Linked DNA regions of Homo sapiens. The protein of the gene in region 1 purifies or fractionates together with the protein of each later gene. This does not show direct contact. Each region holds a gene or a part of one and is shown on either strand. Other genes may lie near its edges.

The links. Proteins that work in one complex are often made in the same cells at the same time.
Region 2: the proteins of GPR161 (region 1) and GOLGA5 purify together in Homo sapiens (affinity purification with mass spectrometry; 2 studies listed by BioGRID and IntAct, with this or other methods). This does not show direct contact.
Region 3: the proteins of GPR161 (region 1) and LMBR1 purify together in Homo sapiens (affinity purification with mass spectrometry; 2 studies listed by BioGRID and IntAct, with this or other methods). This does not show direct contact.
Region 4: the proteins of GPR161 (region 1) and JPH1 purify together in Homo sapiens (affinity purification with mass spectrometry; one large-scale study listed by BioGRID and IntAct). This does not show direct contact.

The regions. Positions count from the first base shown.
Region 1 is NC_000001.11:168,126,931-168,130,430, forward strand, and holds part of GPR161 (G-protein coupled receptor 161), read right to left. Parts: intron 1-3,500. UniProt on the Homo sapiens protein: Key negative regulator of Shh signaling, which promotes the processing of GLI3 into GLI3R during neural tube development.
Region 2 is NC_000014.9:92,832,305-92,835,804, forward strand, and holds part of GOLGA5 (golgin subfamily A member 5), read left to right. Parts: intron 1-817; coding exon 818-1,043; intron 1,044-3,254; coding exon 3,255-3,360; intron 3,361-3,500. UniProt on the Homo sapiens protein: Involved in maintaining Golgi structure. Stimulates the formation of Golgi stacks and ribbons. Involved in intra-Golgi retrograde transport.
Region 3 is NC_000007.14:156,883,184-156,886,683, reverse strand, and holds part of LMBR1 (limb region 1 protein homolog), read left to right. Parts: intron 1-3,500. UniProt on the Homo sapiens protein: Putative membrane receptor.
Region 4 is NC_000008.11:74,234,541-74,238,040, forward strand, and holds the end of JPH1 (junctophilin-1), read right to left. Parts: intron 2,764-3,500; coding exon 2,683-2,763; 3' UTR 2,668-2,682; exon of another isoform or gene 2,496-2,667; 3' UTR 160-2,495; downstream 1-159. UniProt on the Homo sapiens protein: Junctophilins contribute to the formation of junctional membrane complexes (JMCs) which link the plasma membrane with the endoplasmic or sarcoplasmic reticulum in excitable cells.

The DNA of each region.
Region 1 (3,500 bases):
CCTTGGAATCTTTACCAAACCCAGGTCTGAATTCCCTGTGACTGTGTGTGTGTCTCTTAATCTCTCTGAGACTCAATTTCTCCTAAGACAAAAAAGAGAGTAGATATACTCTACTTTATACAACTGCCAAGAGGAATCTACGAGGTAATGAGGGTAAAAGTACGAGCAAAAAGGTTGTCAGAAGATAAACTCAAGGAATGTTTACAAAAATTACTTAAGACATGAAAAGAAAACTCAATTCTTTTTTTCCCTTTCAAATTTTAATTCAAGCTGGCCGGGCACAGTGGCTCACACCTGTAATCCCAGCACTTTGGGAGGCTGAGGCAGGTGGATTGCCTAAGGTCAGGAGATCAAGACTAGCCTGACCAACATGGTGAAACCCTGTCTCTATTAAAAATACAAAAATTAGCCAGGCATGATGGTGGGCACCTGTAATCCCAGCTACTCTGGAGGCTGAGGCAGGAGAATACTTGAACCCAGGAGGTGGGCATTGCAGTGAGCCAAGATGGCGCCACTGCACTCCAGATTCGGTGATGCAGTGAGACTCCATCTCATTAAAAAAAAAAAAATTTAGTTAAAGACAGAGAGGTTTCATTCAACTACTGTATTAGTCTGTTTTTATGCTGCTGATAAAAACATACCCAAGATTGGGAAGAAAAAGGTTTATGGACTTACAGTTCCACATGGCTGGGAGGCAAGGAGGAGCAAGTCACATCTTACATGGATGGCAGCAGGCAAAAATTCCCATTTTTAAAACCATCAGATCTCATGAGACTCATGCACTATGAGAACAGCACAAGAAAGACCCACCCGCTCCCATAATTCAATCACCTCCCACTGGGTTCCTCCCATGACACATGGGAATTGTGGGAGTTACAATTCAAGATGAGATTTGGCTGGGAACACAGCCAGAGCATATCAACTACTTGTTGATGCGGAAGAGATGAAATGGAAGACAGAAAAGATGCATTGCAAGAGAATGCAAAGTGGAAGTGTCTTTGACTCCATAAGGGGCTCAGGGCCTGAAGATTTAAAGCCCCACTATAGGAAGATGCCCCCTCCCAGAACTGAGCTGCTGCAGCTACCACACAGATGCTCAGGCTGAGGGTTGTGGGCACCCAGGTAAGCAGCTGACTGAGAAATATGAAATTTTAATTTACCTCCACCTGTAACTGTGGGGCTGATATTCCATGCTTCCTTTGGCTCAAAACCCCTTCCCTGAAATTGCATATATTTTCTTTTTAAGCAGAAGAGCTGAAATGATATCAGTGAAAAGAATGAGGTTAGCTGGGGAGGGTCTGAAAATATCCAAGCAGTAGACACTGGATAATAATCAAACCCACTCCCTACCTCACTATCCTACATCACTGATTCTCAATCCCCATTCTCCAGATCCCGCACCTCTGGAAATGCCTGGAGACATTTTTGGTTGTCACACCTGGGGGATGCTATTGGCACCTAAGGCTGGGGATGTTGCTAAACATTTTACAATACACAAGATAGCCCCCAACAACAGAGAATTATCCGGTCAAAAACGTCAGTAGTGCCGAGGTTGAGAAAACCTGCTCTACACAAACAATTTGGGTTCATTCTTCTCATTCTGTTTTTTACTGTATGTACTTAATAAACAGATCAAGAAAAATAAAACAAGCCCTTCCATAACATACACATGCTCTGAGAAGACAAGAGATGGAAGCTGTGCTGAGAACAAGACTGAGATGATTACTTCTATCACAAGATAAAAAATAATGACTACGTGAATTAGTTTTTACCCTTAATTATTTTTTATTTATTATCCTCATCAAGCCAGGCAAACTAAGCCCATATTCCTAAAACTATATTATTTTTAAATAGCTGAAAGGAGTACATTTTTTTCTGATGGCCATATGTGAGATGGATGCCTCAGGCACAGGGCTGTCCCCTCCCTCCCTCACCATGATAGCCATACTGCCACTGGTTTCTGGACACTCCTATATTCTTGTTTTCCCATTCCTCACTGAGCTACACAAAATACATTTATTGAAGAGCTGCTCTGTGCCCAGCTCAACTCTACAGCTGGGGCATAGCCCTGAACAAGACATGTTCAAATCTCTCCTATCCTGAAGCTTACATTTTGGAGGTGGGGATACAGACAGTAAACAAATAAATTTAAAAAATAGGAAACAATTCTGGGTAGTAGGTACTGTAAAGAAAGATCAAACAGGGTAAGCAGAGAGGGAATGGGTGTCTGGGTCAGGGGTGGGTCATCAGGGAAGGCTCTCCAAGGACATGACATTTGAGCAGAGACCAGAAAATGATGCGAGGGAACCTCAGGCAGGCCAGAGAAGAGCCCTTGCAAAGCCCTGAGGCTGAAATGAGCTCGGCGTGTTTAAGGATTAGCAAGAAAGCTGGAGAGGAGTGAAGAAGAGAACAGCAGACTTTGGAGACAGTCGGGGGCCAGATTACAAAAAGCATTGCAGGCCTGGAGAAAGAGTGTGGACTGGATTCTACATGTGAGAGGAAGCCACTGGAGAGACATGACTGACTTACACTTTCAAGAGGTCACTGTGCCTGCTGCTGGGTGAAGGGGGGACTGCAAGGGGCAAGTGTGGAGGCAGGGACCCCAGTTAGGAGGCCACGGCTATGGCCCAAGTAGAGACAAAGGCTTGGACCAGGGTCATGGTAACAGAAGTGTTAAGAAATGTTTAGATTCACTAATCTCCTTAAAGACGCCAACATTTTGGAGCTAAAAGAGGCCTTCAGAGTAATTCATTCTAGTCTATCATTTTACAGATGACAAAATGAAAGCCCAAGGGGCTGAAATGAGTTACCCATAGTCATAGACCTAATTACTGACAAAGCACAAATTTCCTGACTGCCATCACTATACCTCTGCCCTTACCTGGCCAACCCAGGGCTGGGGTGGGCAATGCAGAAGACAGGTAGGCACAGGAACCCTCTAGAGGGTAGTCCTAGCCAAAGTCAAAATAAATGACTCTCTTTGCTTTGGGCAAGGTCACCCTAACATCCTAGCCAAACCCAATGGGCCCTTATTGAGCTCTCTGCAGCATCTGACACTTCTGACTCCTTTCATTTTTTTGAGACTCCCTCTTCCCTTGTCTTCCCTGAGCTCCTCTCTCCTGTCTCTCCGTCCTTTAGTTCCTTACCAGTCTTGCTTACCTGCTAATCATCCTACCCTGTAAGCGCTGCAGTTTTCCAAGATGCCCTCTGGGGCACTATTTCTTCCTTTCTCATCTACAGAGGAAATTAACTGTCGGCCTCCTCGATATCTCTTACCCTTGTCCAGCAGTTGCTCCTCTGGAGACCCACCCTTTTCACACACCACATCCATGTGGCTTCATGGATGTGGACACATGACCTATGCCTCGCCAATCAGCATCTTCGAACTTCCTTTGATGTAACAACAGTGTTGCTGAAACAGCTGGGAGAAGGACAGTTCCCCTTTCACATTGGATTTGAACCTGCAGCTTTCCCCCTTGCCAGAGCTGCTGGGGATCACC
Region 2 (3,500 bases), on another chromosome or scaffold:
AATTTGTGGGGAGTGCTGTAAGGGATTTATAAGAAAGAAAGGCAGGTGGAGCCTAGATAAGAGAAGGGGATTGAGTTTCCAAACAGAGGAAACGTGGCCGGCATAGCGGAGGCTGGAGGAGAGTAGAGGGAGATGGAGACAGATAAGACCAGATGGAAGATGGAATGAAGGAAGTCGTTAAGTATCAACTTTCAGCCAGAGTCTCCTAGGACAACTATCATTTACTGTCCCTAAATACCATGTGCAACGGGTGCTGTCATCTTCACTAACAGATGAGGAAACAGATTCAGAGAAGTATAGCAATTAACCTGAAGTCAAATAGCTTGAAAATTGCAGAGCAGAGATGAAAACCTCAGAGTGTGATCTTTGCACTGCACCGTAACTGTTGAATGACGGAGGCTTTTGAATCCCTGTTGAAAAGTGTGGATTGTGTCCTCTAAACCCATGCTTTGAAATACTTTGACCATGACGCCTCAGTGAGAAAAACAGTTTACATCGTGTCTCAGTACTGACATGCACTTACATGTACCAAACTGAAACAGGAGTTTCACAAAATTATACTTTTATATATACTATATGTTACATAAATATCAGAATATGTCCCATTCTATTACATTTTCTAAAATGCTGATTTTGACCCACCAAATTGATTTCATGACCCCAGTTTTTGAAAATCACTTTTGTAGACATTGAGTCAGTATAGAGTTTTGAGAAATCAATGAATGCCACAATTTACCTATGAAAATGTAGTAGTGTGATTTCTGTATTGTATGACTTTCATTTTATGTAAGAATTTTGTGAACACTTTCTCTTTCAGCTTACCAATAAAACTTTAAGCAATAGCAGTCAGTCTGAGTTAGAAAATCGACTCCATCAGCTAACAGAGACTCTCATCCAGAAACAGACCATGCTGGAGAGTCTCAGCACAGAAAAGAACTCCCTGGTCTTTCAACTGGAGCGCCTCGAACAGCAGATGAACTCCGCCTCTGGAAGTAGTAGTAATGGGTCTTCGATTAATATGTCTGGAATTGACAATGGTGAAGGTAATCAAAAAAGGAATCTCAAAAGAACATTTCATTCAAACATGCTTTTGAAAAGTTATAGAAGGACTATTTTTATTTGAAAGAAACTTCATCCAGTGAAGGACTCAATTTTCTGATATGAGACCTGGGCCACGTACTGTTTAGTATTGTTAGTGAACCGGATAATGGACTAATTAATATTCCTCACCAGTATTAGACTTGGGGAAAGTAGTCTGAGGATTGATAATTATATTGTAATGTCTGAGACACTTAACAAGATGATGCTGACAAGGCGAGGAATTCAGTAGAGAGGAGCTTTCAGGACACTTGAAACAAGATTTGCTTTAATAATCTTCCAGTAAATAGTTACGGGTATTAGAGCTAATACATAGTTCACATAACCATATCTAAAGAAATCTATAGATTCCCAACATATGTAATTAAAAAATAATGTGTAAGATAGTATAAGCATCAACAGATCAGATTTTTAATCTTGGAACTTCGTAAAGTCTACAAATTGTCATTCAGCAAATTTCTCAGTTCTTTGGCTTTAAATTATTTCTTTTAATAAAAAAAATTGTTTAAGAGACGCTGGGTGCCAGGTATGGGGATGGCACTGTAATTTAAAAAGGGTGATCAGGAAGACCTCGTTGAAAAGTGTCACTTCTTTTTTTTTTTTAATGTATAATTATCATTTTATTTGTAATTGTTAATTACAAGTAAAAATGAAATTATAAATAAGTAAATCATACTCCTTAATGGCATAAATAAAAAGTGCCTCGCTTAAATTAATAAAATTTTCCTGACCATAACTTCTGTGATTTTTTTAAGGGTTTTCAGTTTCTTTTAGGTTTCACCTTTTTTTTTTTATTTTATTTTTTTATTATTATTATACTTTAAGTTTTAGGGTACATGTGCACAATGTGCAGGTTAGTTACATATGTATACATGTGCCATGCTGGTGTGCTGCACCCATTAACTCGTCATTTAGCATTAGGTCTATCTCCTAATACTATCCCTCCTCCCCCCTCCCCCAGCCCCACAACAGTCCCCAGAGTGTGATGTTCCCCTTCCTGTGTCCATGTGTTCTCATTGTTCAATTCCCACCTATGAGTGAGAACATACGGTGAAAAGTGTCACTTCTTTAAAGTCCCAAAGGAGGTAAGATAGTGAACAATGAGGAGGCATAGAAAAAAAGTGTTCCAGGCAGAAAGAAGAGCAGGCACAAAGGCCTTGAGGCAGGCATGTTCCTGGCATATTTCAGGAACAGCAAGGAGGCCAAGGCCTCTGGAGTAGACTGAGTGAAGAAGACACTTGTGTAAGATGAATCCAGAGAGCTTAGAATAGGCCGTTGAGGCCTGTATGGGGACTTTTACTCTGAATGAGGTAGGAAGCCATTGAAGGATCTTGAGAGGGGGGACTGATCTGACTTGCACCTTAATAGGCTGCCTCTGACTGCCATGTCAAGAATAGACTGCACAGGGCTAAAAGTGGAAGCAGGGAGACAGGGCAAGAGGAGGCCGGAGGTGGGTGGGTAGCCATTGCATTAATCCATGTGAGAGATGGTAGTCTAGAACTGAGTGGGATTGTGAAGGTGGACTGAGAATTTATTTTAAAGGTAAGCTGACAGAATATGTTGGCAGATGAGATACGGAGTTTGAGAGAAAGAAGTCAAGAGTTTTGGCCTGAGCAGATGGAAGGATTGGAATTGTGATGTCCTGAGACAGGGAAATGGCAGCTGAGGCAGGTTGACAGCGAGGACAAGAACTCTGAATTGTAGTGTTAGGCAGGCTTTGGGGTGCCCGTTAGATATCTGGATGGAAGCGAATAGGCAGTTGGATGAGTCTGGCAGGGGATGAAGCCTCTGGGCTGGAGTACACATTTGGGAGTCCTCTGCTTCATAGAAAGACCACCCGGCCTCACTCCTCCTCACATAGGAACAAAGGGCCCATTAATATTGACTCTTGTCAACGCTTAGTATTTGTAAATTTCTTAATTTTTGCTAAAATCATTTTCTTATTTAAAACTTTTTTCTTGTTGTGGATATGGATGTTTAAATATTTATGTCATCAAATTTACCTGTCCTTTCTTTATAGTTTCATCTACTTTGGGGTGATGCTTAGAAAGTTGCCCTTGAAAATTCCTTCCACATGTAATACAGTGTATTTCCAATTATAATTGTCTTAGTTAATTTTTATGTCAGTACACTAATTTATTTTCTTATTTAAACAGGCACTCGTCTGCGAAATGTTCCTGTTCTTTTTAATGACACAGAAACTAATCTGGCAGGAATGTACGGAAAAGTTCGCAAAGCTGCTAGTTCAATTGATCAGTTTAGGTAAGCAATGCCAGTAGGGATGAGTGATGGACCATCAGCTGTTTTTACGTTTTTCAGGGTTTCAATCACAGTGACTCCCATCAGGCAGAGTCTATATTTAAAGTGACTTACTCCTTTCAAGATATTTTATACTTATATAC
Region 3 (3,500 bases), on another chromosome or scaffold:
TCCAGATAAGCAATATTAAGATAACTGCAGCTCACTCACTGCCAGACCCTAAGTGATCCCCACTCTCCTGTTCCACAAGCCATAACTATAGCTTTGATTGGACAAGAGACTGATTTCAGTAACTTTCTCCTGATAAGAGCACTGAGCATGAACTGGTTCTGGCCAGTTTACAGAGGCTGTGCACTTCAGTGCCTTCATGTCCCTGCTTCGCCATCTGACTACAGGGCCTCATTGTAATCCTTTTAGATGTTAAGTCTCCACCCACAAGTGAATATGGATAAGTATGTAACATACATGTTTATTCAGCCTGCATGTGCATGACCTCCCCCACTTTGTGAATATTCATAGCTCCTCCTATAACCTGTTAAATATATAAACTTGGCCAACCCGTTCAGCATAAATCCCTGTTCTATCCTCCCTTGAAGGTCTGTTTCTGTGCTCTGCGGGAGGATGCTTCCCAGCTATCAGGATTGCCACCTTGTAGGCTGTGACTCTTTACAAAATTATTTTTGAGGCAGAGTGTGGTTCCGTCACTCAGGCTGGAATGCTGTGGCACAAACACGGCTTACTGTAGCCTCTATCTCCCAGGCTCAAGAGATCTTCCTACTTGAAGGAAGTCTTTTTTTTTTTTTTTTTCTTTTTTTGAGGCAGAGTCTCACTCTGTCACCCAGGCTGGAGTGCAGTGGCACTATCTCAGCTCACTGCAACCTCTACCTCCTGGGTTCAAGCAATTCTTGTGCCTCAGCCTCTTGAGTAGCTGGGATTACAGGTGCCACCACCATGCCTGGCTAATTTTATTTATTTATTTATGATATGGAGTCTCTGTCACCCAGCCTGGAGTGCAGTGGCACAATCTCGGCTCACGATAACCTCTGCTTCCCGGGTTCAAGTGATTCTCCTGCCTCAGCCTCCCAGTAGCTGGGATTATAGGTGCCTGCCACCATGCCCGGCTAATGTTTTTGAATTTTTAGTAGAGGCAGGGTTTTACCATGTTGGCCAGGCTAGTCTCAAACTCCTGACCTCAAGTGATCCTCCTGCCTTGGCCTCCCAAAGTGCTGGGATTACAGGTGTGAGTCAATGCGTCTGGCCATTTTTGTATGGACGGGTTATTTCCGTGTTACCCAGACTGGTCTTGAACTCTCCTGGCCTCAAGTAATCCTCCTGCCTCAGCTTCCCAAAGTGCTAGAATTAGAGGTGTGAGCCACCATGCCTGGCCTGGCTGCGCAATCTAAATTCTTCCTTATCCTGGGTATGGCTTAAGCTCCCCTCTTGGCTAGAATATTTTTGGAACCAAGTCTGGGGTTGACTGGGACTTTTTTTTTTTTTTCTTTTACACGGAGTCTCGCTCTGTCACCGAGGCTGGAATGCAGTGGAGCGATCCTGGCTCACTGCAACCTCCGCCTTCCAGATTCCAGTGATTATCCTGCCTCAGCCTCCCAAGTAGCTGGGATTACAGGCGCCTGCCACCATGCCTGGCTAATTTTTGTATTTTTAGTAGAGATGGGGTTTTGCCATGTTGGCCAAGCTGGTCTTGAACTCCTGACCTCAGGTGATCCGCCCCTGCCTCGGCCTCGCAAAGTGCTGGGATTACAGGCATGAGCCACCGTGCCCAGCCAGACTGGGACTTACACAACAGAGATTTTAGAACCTTCCCATTTAGTTGGCTCCTTTTAGGCCAAATGGGAGGTGGGGAGATAATGGGGATAGAAGTATCCTTCATCTACTGCCTCTCTAGATGAGTTTACCTGCTGTTTTCTACTGGTGTCTTGCCCTCAACTCTATGGCTTACCCTTTATGCAGGAGATAAAAAACTTTAGTCCTTCCCACTTGGGAATAGTGGTTGGGCAGAAGGTGGGAACCAATCACCAATCTTGTATGTAAGTTCAGAATGCAGTTATCTTGGAGTCTGTAGTCTTCTGACCTTTGTCATTGCCCTCCAGTGAAAGACCTCCAAGAGCACACCTGTAGTTGGACAAATTGGGCTTATTGCATATTTCAGTGAGTTCCATGGGGAACTGTGGGGTGTTTCAGTAACTTTTCAAATGGGATTTGGGCTTCTACTAGGTAGTTTGGGAAGGGTTTAAGGAAGTGAGGCTTTGATCTGTATGGGGTGCTGTTAGGAAGCTGGAAAAATTCTGTAACTGGATAGCTTAAGAAATCTTTTCTAGAAGGAAAGAAGACTGGAATAAAGCTAAAGCTGTAACTGGTAAAGAAGCAACAGTCATTCCTGTTAGCCAGGATAGAGAGTTGGTCATTTCTGTGATTTGGACAATGTTCATGTTTTTTTTTTTGCTTGTGTTCAGGAGTGATTACAGAGTGGTCTTGTTTAGTCTTTATCCATCATGGTCTTGTCTGATATTGATGTTCTCTGAAATTGTTGATGTTCAGCAGAAGAGTCAGTCATCAAGGCCTAGGTGTGTGCCTTGCTCTGAGTTGTTAGCCAGTTTACAGCAACACCAAGGCCCAGCTGTGATATTACCAGGCCAGCTCCCAGATGTCAGGGGCTGCATTTCTTTTTCTCACGTGGTTGTAAAGTCTTCTAGTGGAATGATGTATTAGAAACAAATCCAATAGCCAACATAAGTTGAAGTGATTTTCTAACATAGAAGAGCAAAAAGGAATGGGATAGAGGTATAGAGGTTTCATTTGTATTTGACTTTTCTAAACTGGGTTAAATCAGCTTCCCCTCTGCGGTAGGCAGCATAATGGCCCCTGAAGTTGGTAATCCATGTGGTAATCCCTGGAGCCTGTGGTGTGTTACTTTACATGGGTAAAGGGATTTTGCAGATGTGAGTATGTTAAAGGAGAATTACCCTGAATTATCCAGGTGGGCTCTATGTGGTCACAGGGTCCTTATAGGAGAGGCAGGAGGGTCAGAGTCAGAGGAGATGTGATGACAGAGGCAGAGTTGGAGTGATGCCCTTTGAGGAAGGAGGAGGGACCATGAGCCAAGGAGTGTGGGCGGCCTCCAGAAGCTAGAAACGTCAAGGAAATGAATTCTTTCCTAGAGTCTCCAGAAGGAAGCAACCTTGCTCACGCCTTGATTTTAGCCCAGTGAAACTCAATAAATTTGTGTTGTTTTAAGTCACAAAGTTTGTGTAATTTGGTTACAGCAGCCATAGGAGATTCCTACTCCTTCATCAGGAGGCTTTGACTTTCACTGCTGTCCCTGTATATCTTACCACTCCATAGTTGTGTACTTGAGGTTAAAGGAAACTGGGACATTCTAATTACATTTGAGATAATTTTTCATGTCTTCCTATTCTGTCCTCCTTTTTTTTTTCTGAGATGGAGTCTTGCTCTGTTGCCCAGGCTGGAGTGCAGTGACATGATCTTGGCTCACTGCAGCCTCCGCCTCCCGAGTTCAAGCAATTCTCCTGCCTCAGCCTCCCAAGTAGCTGGGATTACAGGTGTGCACCACCACACCTGGCTAATTTTTGTATTTTCAGTAGAGACAGGTTTCACCTGTTGGCCAGGGTGGTCTTGAACTCCAGACCTCA
Region 4 (3,500 bases), on another chromosome or scaffold:
TGGAGCAGTATAACTACCTTCTGGCACATGGCTTCTTTGAGCATTTTTTCCTTCTATTTCTGCTGTTAATTTTTCAGCAGATCTCTTTCAACACCACCACCAAAGTATTCCACATAACTCAAGACAGTAATTTACTCACAAAGAAAACACACCTCCAACTTCATTAATAACCAACTTTTTTTTATTAGAGCAGATACAGTTGTGAAAACTGTACATTATACATTTTGGTTTCAAGAATTATAAATAAAGGAACTCACAGGTAGGGAGTTCTTTTTCACAGCAAGAAACTTTAAATAAACAAAGTCATGTTTTATTAAGTACATTGGCAGACTTCATGTGCTGTCCAAAATGTTGAGTACAGTATAACAACCCATTAGAAAGAGCCTTCATGTAAAATACAGCTGTGCACATTTTAGAAAAATACCAACAATTTGAGCTTTGTTTTAAAAAAGCTTATAAATCATACATATATTTATAAATGGGACCAACATGCTCACTTTATAAACATATCCTCTCGCTATCTGTTACCCATTATTTCCAAAGCATTACGCATTTTAAATGAACACTTAATAAGATTAAATATTTTATTATTATTTTTTTAAAAAACCAGCTTTCCCAGCGTAAGGAGCTATAGGGTTTGGGAGGGGCAGTGAGAGTACTGAGAGTGACGCAGGAACTTTAAACATTTGTTCTCAGGTAAAAACGGACTTCCTAAATTTAAAAGTCAAAGCAAAATGTAAAAAATGAATATACAAGTTGAAATTTTTCATTTGCTCTCTTTCTGCCTTCTTCTTTATTCCATATTGGTCACACCCAGGATTTTCAACATATTGTGCTTCTGTAAGAAACATCACTGGGTTACTACCCTGCAGGTGACAAAGCACTCAGTCCACATCTGTGCTAACCAGGGAATTGTGTGAACTGTCTCTTCTCCATTGAAAAGGTAGCTAATATGGTGTAAAAAAAAAAAAAAATCTGATTAAACCATGCAAATCATGAAAATATTTAGGAGTAGCTCCCCCTCTGCAATGTAATGTTTTATAAAGATTTAATAGATTAGATAGATATCTTTCTTCCCCTGATTTCTTTTTAAGTAATTACTTTTATAAAGACCATTTAGTTTCTATAAGTAAGCATGCTTCTGAATAACAAAGGGTAAATTATAAAACAGCAAAAATCCAGAAATGTCAGAATGACAAAAGACTGTAAAAGACACATATTTAAAATAAAAATGTCTAAGCCTTTAAAATGTGAAATGAAATTACAAAAGGACTTTGAAAAACAGGAAAGGCAGAAAACTGAGAGGCAGTGATTGAACAAGGCTTTATGTTCTACCTGAATGTATTCAACAGAAATTTAAGTTGGAAAAAGAAAACAAGAAAGAGCAGAGCAGTTTATTAATAGCATCTTGCTTAACTTTCATGGGAATTAACACAGCCACCGACAAGATTTTATTTGGTTGTAAAGTACGTCAGCAAAGAAACTGAATCCTTTAAACACTGATTACTGCAATCCATGCAACGTTTGGACTATATTTCTTAGAATTCTGTTGTGTTTCAGCTTTTAAAATTTAGCACTTCCTAAGTGCATAAATAATTCACCTCAGTAATGTTAAAAATATTTAGAATTAAATTAGTTCTTAGGAAGGCATAGTGTCTTCAAATTGCTAAATTTTAAAGATAAATAACCTTTTACAAGTATAGGAAGAATAAATGACATAAAAGATGGTATATTGCTATCAAAATAAGCACATTTTCACTAGCATTTTGTTGTTTCTTTTCCTTGAGATGCAACACGTGTGTTTCGTCCGGCCAGGACCGCAGGTGGTAGATGACTATACGTCAGATTTAAATAAACAGCAAAAATGAACAGAGTCGTGCACAAGCAAACGAAACGTTCTCTCCCAGAACATTCCAGGAGATGTTAAAGCAGCAGGTCATGGCATAAGACTGGTGAGTGATGCTGCTACCTATTTCTTCTAATGAGATAGGAGTGAATGTTGGAACCACGTCCACAGCAACACAATCCTCCGACCGCATTCCTCGGGCAGTCGTTTCCCCAGCTCCCTACTAAAAACGTCAGATGGTAAAATAGTAAGGCAGCTGTTGACTTCCATCAAAAAAAAAAAAAAAATGCAGCTCCATACATTTCCAGTTTAGTCACACTCTGCTAGGACAGATGGAGTAGCCAATGCCAAGAACTTCGCCGGATGGGGCTGCTTCAGCAGATTTTAAAAAAGAATTATTATTAAGTTTTGCTCTCCAACATGGCCGTGTGCTTCAGCTCCCAGAGGACCCCAAAGCCACAAAGCACTCCCAGGGGAACCGAACAGGTCCTCTGGCTGAATTTTCCAAGTTTCATCTCTCTCGCGATCCCATCCTAATTCCAAGCCTCCTTCCCTGTGTCTGAGTCTGCCTGGGGTGGGCCATTTAAAGGGCTGACGGCACCACTGCAGAGAACTGTGGGCTAACACACCACTAGTTGTCAGGACTTCACTGAAGGGTCAAAACAGTTATAGCAATTAAGTAACTATGTTGAATCACATTCAGGCATAGCCAAAATTAAAGTGAAGGACAATACGTCATTGTTAAAAAAAATAGCAAATTTGCATATGAGAAAAGAATGTTATTTACTATGATTTTAGATAGAAATTAAGGCGATTCTTACCTTTCCTAATTCCAATCAAGTTAGAAAGTGAACAAAAAGAATGGCCAACCCGATATTCAACAGCATGACAAGGACAATCATGATTGAATTAGGGCCCTGAAAATGAAAGAGAACAAAGTAACTATAACTTCTCCATGTTAATATCAAGATATTACCAAAGCCAATTACTGAAAAAATGAGAAAGTTAACATGATTGCAGTAAATAAGGCATAAAAGATGACAGCAGTTCGGAAAGGTGTAGACTAAAAACGGCAATGCTATGTTTAGATGGAGACATTTCAGAACCTTCACTTAAAAATGAATCCAGGCTTGAATTAGTTTAAAAACGTTTTAAACAACTGATCCACTTCATTCACCTCAAAACAATGGACAACAGCGTGTGCTGAGACACAGCTCACCCTAACAGGGCCTACGAACGGCTGGGAGTTAGACGTGCATTTGTTGTTAGAATGCAGTTCAGATGAGGAAGAGCTGCTTCCTCCACAGGGCAGTTAGAACACGAGAGCAAAATCTGTAGGACAAAGCCACCTCCAAGGAACAATTCAGGGAAAACTCAAAACGAGGTTCTCTACCTCTTGCTTTTTCCCTGGTCCTCTGTTTGGACACCACCCTTTCCGTTAAGTAAAAGCTGTAAGTGAGAAGTTGGATACTTTCAGAAGTTATCTTACAGGCCCAGCTTTTCAAATTTCTCTAATCACAACCACAACATTTCAGAAATGAAGTTATATTTTACAAACTATGGGATCCTATTTTGATAAATATCATTATAATAAATACCAGATAGTTGTCCAAGGGCCCCAAATTTTTACTTGTTTAAACAAACCAACCTCATA